Linked DNA regions of Homo sapiens: region 2 is reported to be linked to region 1. The links are microRNA targets in miRTarBase. Many come from high-throughput screens and were not tested one by one. Region 1 holds a microRNA gene; the other region holds the end of a gene's coding sequence.
The links. The annotated mature microRNA hsa-miR-196b-3p reads UCGACAGCACGACACUGCCUUC and lies in region 1 at 1,011-1,032, shown strand. An mRNA with a match to its seed (bases 2 to 7 or 8) in the 3' UTR can be bound and repressed. Matches are read on the target gene's strand: a 7mer-m8 pairs with bases 2 to 8, a 7mer-A1 pairs with bases 2 to 7 and ends in A, and an 8mer does both.

Region 2: miRTarBase lists CERS1 as a target of hsa-miR-196b-3p. Seed matches in the 3' UTR shown: 7mer-m8 at 993-999.

Annotation. Positions count from the first base shown.
Region 1 is chr7:27,167,380-27,170,524 of GRCh38, reverse strand. It overlaps MIR196B (microRNA 196b), which reads left to right and starts at 962; the gene lies at 962-1,045. All of the region lies in intron 1 of HOXA10-HOXA9 (HOXA10-HOXA9 readthrough), which reads left to right. HOXA10-AS (HOXA10 antisense RNA) reads right to left here and starts at 1,626. Exons shown (of 3, transcript NR_046609.1): 1 at 1,532-1,626; 2 at 761-1,218. RefSeq lists enhancers at 760-1,350, 1,351-1,941, 3,131-3,145.
Region 2 is chr19:18,867,803-18,870,802 of GRCh38, forward strand. It overlaps CERS1 (ceramide synthase 1), which reads right to left. Exons shown (of 8, transcript NM_021267.5): 7 at 2,181-2,817; 8 at 743-1,588. The coding sequence ends at 2,775. UPF1 (UPF1 RNA helicase and ATPase) reads left to right here. Exons shown (of 24, transcript NM_002911.4): 24 at 1-428. It overlaps GDF1 (growth differentiation factor 1), which reads right to left. Exons shown (of 8, transcript NM_001492.6): 7 at 2,181-2,817; 8 at 743-1,588. The coding sequence starts at 2,505. The coding sequence ends at 795. Among named protein-coding and RNA genes, the nearest start is that of CERS1, 27 kb to the right of the region's middle.

The DNA of each region.
Region 1 (3,145 bases):
CTAACCCGAGCCCCTGCAATTACTTTAGGCATCTATTTAAATATTACCTAGACGGTCGTAATTTGTCTGGGCCCTATAGCCCTGGTGCCGTAAGGTTTGTCGGCTTTTGTTCAGTTTTATGGCTTGCTAGTATATCTGGATTGTGGCTGTCTTGGACCAGTGATTTCAGTTGAGAGGGGAGCTACATAGACAGAGGAAGCCAAACAGGATTTCTTTCGGGAGCCCCAGGGAGGCTTGCAGAGGCCGGTTATTTTGCGGGTGTCTGGGTCACAGATGACCCTCAATCTGAATCGGGGAGCAGGCCTGGCCCACAGCGCATCTCTAGCCGCTGGAGGCAGCGGTTAGGTGGACCCGGGCTGGACTGCATGGGGGCCTCCCCCTCCCCCAGTACGGCCTCCCCCACCTGGCGGCACTCCTTAGGGCCACGCGTTTCCTGCTTGCCAGAGTGGGGGGGGCGGGGGCTAAGGGGAGGGGGCGCAGGAGCGCGCGCCCCGGCGGGCGGGCAGCTAGGAGGGAGAGGGGGAGAGCGAGAGGCGGGAGGCCGGGGCCAGACAGGGAGCCGGGATCTGTACCGTCCCTGGCGCTTTCGAGCCTTCCACGGCTACCGCCTCTTGGCGCCGGCTCGCTGGGCTGCAAGATTTGGGAAAGCGGCGCGCACACTGCTTCTCGGAGCTGCTCTCGTCTCGCCTGCTCCCCGCCTTTATTCCTCTCTCCCTGCCTTTCCTCCCTCTCTTTTCCTCCCTCTCCCTCCCAGGAATACCTTACTGGGGCCTGTGGCTTCCCCTTCCTTGACGCATTTGCGGCCGCCTGGGGCACTCTGTTGCACTGGCGGGCGCAGGTTGCCTAGGGGCTGGGCTGGGCCGGGCCAGGCGCGATGGCAGGGTTCTCTCCTTGGCGGCGGCGGCAGCGGCGGAGGCGGCGGCGGCGGCGGGCGAGGCAGCCCTTCGCGGGCAGCACCAGAACTGGTCGGTGATTTAGGTAGTTTCCTGTTGTTGGGATCCACCTTTCTCTCGACAGCACGACACTGCCTTCATTACTTCAGTTGAAATCGTCTCCAGGTACCTCTGCGCGCGGGGGTCGGGCCGGGCGGGGCATCACGGCCCTGGTCGTGCCAGGCCTGCGGTGGCAACCTCGGCTTTCCCTGCTCAGGAGCCTCGTGTCTTTCTCCGCAGCGCTTTGCCAGCCGGCCGGCTTTCCCCTTCCACCACACACCTCCACCTGGTCACAGCAGGTAGGGTTAGGTTGGCTGCTCCTTCGCGGACGCCGGGGGCGTGGTAGGAATTCTGGGCTTTGGGCCATTCAAGGTCAGGGGCGCCCGCTTCCATCCTGAGCCTCCCACTGGAGGCCTGCGCCTGCCCAGGGACCTCCTGCCATTCTCTTGTAAGGCTGGAACACACACACACACACACACACACACACACACACACACACCAGTCCCGGGTGTGAGCTCAGGAAAGAACCTCCTTCCAGTGGAGACTCAGGCTGGACTAGGAAGGATAGGGCAGGCTGGGATCCTGGCCTTGTCACTTACCCTTCTCTCTGTAAGCTCGGCCGCTGCTAGGAGTCGCCTCTCTTTTCTTCCTTCTTTTCCCTGTCTTCCCTTCCTCTTTTATCTCTTCTTTCTTTTTTTCTTCTTTCCTTTGCTCCTTCCTGCTTTCTTTTCTTCCGTTGGTCTTTTTTTCATCTTCCGTCTCTGCCAGATTCTATCTCACCTCCTTATCTCCTTCCCAAAGCATCCTTGGGGAGGGGCCCAGAGCTGGCTTCAGGAGAGCCTAGGGGGTCTCACTTTCCTCTGCGGCTCAAGTAGAGGTTGGGAAGTCTGCCGAGGAAGGGCCCGCGTGGGGCGGCTGCCGAGGGCGGTGGGTTTGGGCCTGGTGTGTTACTCTGCAGACAAGGCCTCGGTTATGATCACGACCGGATGGCGGCAGCCTTGCGTTTCTTCGCCTGTCGCTAACGGCTGACTAGGAGATCTGATTAGGGGACATTCGCTGCAGCTTTGTGTGCCCATATCGAGGGCAGGGAGGCCTTCGCCAGCCTCACTGGGGACTGGAGCTGAGGCCCAACCAGCCTCGCTGGAGCCTGGCCATTCGCTGGGAAGCTCTTAGCTGGCTCTTCCCGGCCTGCCGGTCACAGCTTGGGGTTTGACCGCATTGAGGGAGACTGGCTAGGGCAAAGCTTGACTGCTTGCTTACTAGTGGCTTCCATTAGGTACAAAATATGTTCCATACAGCACCTTTGTGCAGCTGGGTGCTGGAGAAGGGGACCCTTCCAAGAGCCAGTATGTTTTAAATGGGCAAAAAGAATCCCAAATTCCAGAGCCATTGATATAAACTTGAGTCATCGTTCCAAATTGTAGTCTACAGATGGGAGCCAGTCTGACCATTTTCCCTACAGAAAACAGAAAACAAACTATCTCTCCCTACTCCCAACACACACAGTTACAGATTCGTGCCCACAAAGCTGTTTCCTTTCCCTGCCTGGACTGGAGGCCCAGGAACTCTTTCGTTGCACAGCCACCGACCTGCTGTCTGAAAGGACCACACACCCCATTCCCTTCAACTCCTCCCTGCCATTTTCTGGACCAGGGCATTGGATTTATTTCAGAGATCACAGTTTCAGAAATCTCAGTCGAGAAGGGGCCGCTTTAAATTATACTCATTTATTATTTCTTTATGCATACGCAATCTCTTTCACTTCGAAAATAAAAGCAGACAAAAAAGTCAGACTATTCTGGCTCCAAACCTTTGGGCTGAAGGAAGACAATATTTGGTTTTCTGATTTTTCTCCGCTTTCTAGGCACCAGTAACATCTGCTTAACACTCAACGCCTGCTAATTGTTCAGTAACTCTCTTATTTTGGGGCTAAGGCTGTTTAAAGGAACAGCTTTTTTACTTAAAAAATACTGAAATAATCAGTGTCTTCTCAGGCATAAAACGTGGAAAAGGCATCCAGACATGCCCAGCCCATTTGCAGACACTTAAAATTGGGAGCCAGGGTTTCCTCCAGGGTTAATTTTTTAAATGAAAATCTCAGAGGCCTGGCGGACTGCGGGGTATTTAGGACACGGTGGACTGTGGTGGGGGTGGGCATGACCTAGAGGAATTTATGGGGCAAGGAAAATATTAGGGGGAGGGAGATGAGGCGG
Region 2 (3,000 bases), not on the chromosome of region 1:
GGCCAGGCCTCCAGCTTCCCCTGCCCCGGGCCTGGGGCTGTCACTGGCCCTGATCCGAACACCTCCAGATTCCGGCTTCTACATGGGACAGACGGGGACGCACAGGCCACCTTCCTTCTGGCAGGGACTCTTATTTATTCCCATTGCTCTAGGGCTTTCGGTTTCCCCTTCTTCCGGTAGGCCGCGTAGAGGCATGCACCGGGTAGGTTTCCGCGGTGACCCCGCGGCGGCCTGAGGGACGCTCCCTGCCCCATCCCGGCTGTTGGGCTGGGCCGCTTTGCCTCTGCTTCGCCCTGTGCTGTGTTCTCCAGCTTTGTAGCAGCAGCCTTGACAAACCCAGGCGCACTGTACCAAGGCAATGTAACTTTTGATTTTCGGTCAATTTAAGTTCTTTTGTCACCAAATATTAATAAACAGTTTTGACTTCACACCAAGGTTGGATAAACTGCAGGGGGTGGAGGGTGCTGGGGTTTTGCCTTGGCTGAGTGACGGGTTGGGGTGTGAAGGAGGCCAGAGGGAGACAGGCAAAGCCCAGAAGGGACAGGTCTGCCTTGCAGGACTGAAGGGCGACCCCTGCCCCTGGGCCCTTCCCGTAGGCAGCACCTGGGCCTGTCCGGGCGGCTCCCCGGAGTGGCGCGTTAGGCCTCTGGCAGGTGGCCTGGAGGTGGAAAGGCCTATCCGATCACCAAGACTGAGGGGCGCCCTCCCCACCACCCAGGCAAGGAGTCCAAGGAGACCAGCGGAGCAGACCACGCGGCATTTATTGTTGGGCCCGCGTCCCTGCCCGCCCCGGGTTAGCGGCAGCCGCACTCGTCCACCACCATGTCCTCATACTGCCGCAGCACCACGTTGTCGCTGTTGTCAAAGAAGAGCACGGAGATGGGCGACAGGCGCGCGGGCACGCAGCAGGGCAGGTCGGCGGCTCCCGGGGCGGCCGCGTGCATGAGCGCGCGCAGCACAGCGTGGTTGAGCGCCGGCGGCCCCCCGGACCCCGACAGCGCGACGGGCAGCGCGCACTGACCCTGGCAGTAGTTGGCCAGGAAGCCGCGCGGCGCGATGACCCAGCGGTGCCAGCCCACCTCGCGGAAGCTCACGTACAGCCGCCGCGCGCGACAAGCGCCCCCGGGGCCGCCGCCCAACACGGGTTCGGCGTCGCGCCGCGGCCGGGCCAGGGGGTGGCACAGGCGCGGGTCGAGGGTCACCAGCAGCAGCGAGGCCTCGGCCAGGCGCGCGCAGGCGGCAGGGGCCCGGGGGCGTAGCGCCAGCGCCAGGCGGAGGCTGCGCGGCCATGAGGCGTTGCGAGCCCAAGCGGCGCCCAGCAGCTCCGCGCGCACTGGCGGCCCCAGGGCGGGCACCAACTGGCGGAGCAGCACCGGCCCGGGGTCCGCGCCCGCGCCCTGGCCCGCTTGCGCCACGCTCAGCTCCCAGCCGCCCTCCGGGGCTGCCGCCGCCGCCGCCGCGAAACGCAGCTCCAGGCGGGCCCGGCTCGGGCGCTCAGCGGGTTCCACAGCCGACAGGTCGAAGACGACTGTCCACTCAGGGCAATGCCCCGCGGCCGAGGCAGGCTCCGAGGCCCGGGTGGGCGCACCTGGGGAGGTAGGAACAGGAACTCGGCTCGCGCTGCGTCCCCGGCCTGCCCATGGGGTCTCGGTTAGGGACAGGGAGGAAGGTGAACGCTGGGGCTCGGGGCGCACCGTCTGTGGGAAGGGTGTGAAGCGGCGGGGTGGGCTGATGGAGTGGGGGCAGGGCATGAGTTCCAAGGAAGGCGCCCTGCGGGGTGCGGCGGGGGGGGTGGGCTGCCCTCGGCGGGGGGCATAGGAGGAGGGGTGGCCGAAGTGGGAGACATGAGCCAGAACCTGGGCCCCTGGGGAAGCCATGCTAGGGTGTGGGGATGGCATCTGCAGGAAGGCATTAGTGTCAAGAGGTGGGGGTGGGCATGGGGTGGGGACAGGGCTTCAGCATCAAGCAGAAGGACTGGTCTTGGGAACCCCCTGACATGTGTCCCCGGCGTGCAGCAGATGACGAGGAAAGGGTGAGGTGCGGTGGCCGAAGTTGCTAGTAGCCTGGACAGGGCGGGTGGGGACCCTCGGAGCTGCTCGGGCATCCCCGGGCCACTCTCGAGGCTCGCCCTGCGAGGTCTGGCCTCCAGGACCAGTGTCCCCAGCGAAAGCCCCACTCACCGCGGTCCGGGATGTGGCGCACGATGTTTCCGGCGACCCCCAGCTCCTCCACGTGGCACGGTTGCAGGGTGACCCCTGGGGACGTCCGCCGCGAGCCAGACCTGGTCTCCTGGGGGTCCCGGCGTCGAAACAGGCGCCACATGACCGGGGGAACCGGCCGGAGCCTGGGGGCACCCTGGGGCTCATCGCGCAGTCCTAGAGCCTGGAGCAGGGCGGCGGCTGGGCCTGGGGGCACGGGGGCGCGGGTCAGGGGCAGCGAGGGCAGCAGCAGGGCCAGGAGGAGGAGGAGGTGGTGGCCGCAGGGACCTTGCTGCGGCGGTGGCATCTTCCTCCCAGGCGATGACCAGAGAGTGCGCAGGGTCCGCGGCGGCCCGGGACCAGTGGGCTGAGGGCGGGGCCGGTGTCCCCGGAGGGGCAGGGGTCCTGGGGGGCGTGGCCGGGAACTGGAGGCAGGATGAGGGGGCGGGGTCCCAGGGGAGGTGGCGGCGGCCCTAGAGGAGCAGAGTTGGAGGGGGTGGAGGGGCGGCCAAGGACGGGGAGCGTGGCCGGGGTATTCGGGGTGGGGCCGGGTCCACGGGGGCGGGGCCGAGGGGTTCAGAAGCGCTTGTCCTTCACCAGGCCGTTCCTCAGTGGCTTCCTGGGGGTCAGAACCGGCGCAGGTTAGCCTGGGAGCCCCACGCGGCCGCCTGGCCCTCTTTCCCGCTTCTTCTCTGGCCGTTTCACACCCCCTGGCTCCTTTTACCCGGCCAGGCCCGGGCCTCGCCTTGTGGCTTCCTCCTCGCCTTCACCCTGCCCCTCCTTGCCTTCACCCTGCCCCTCC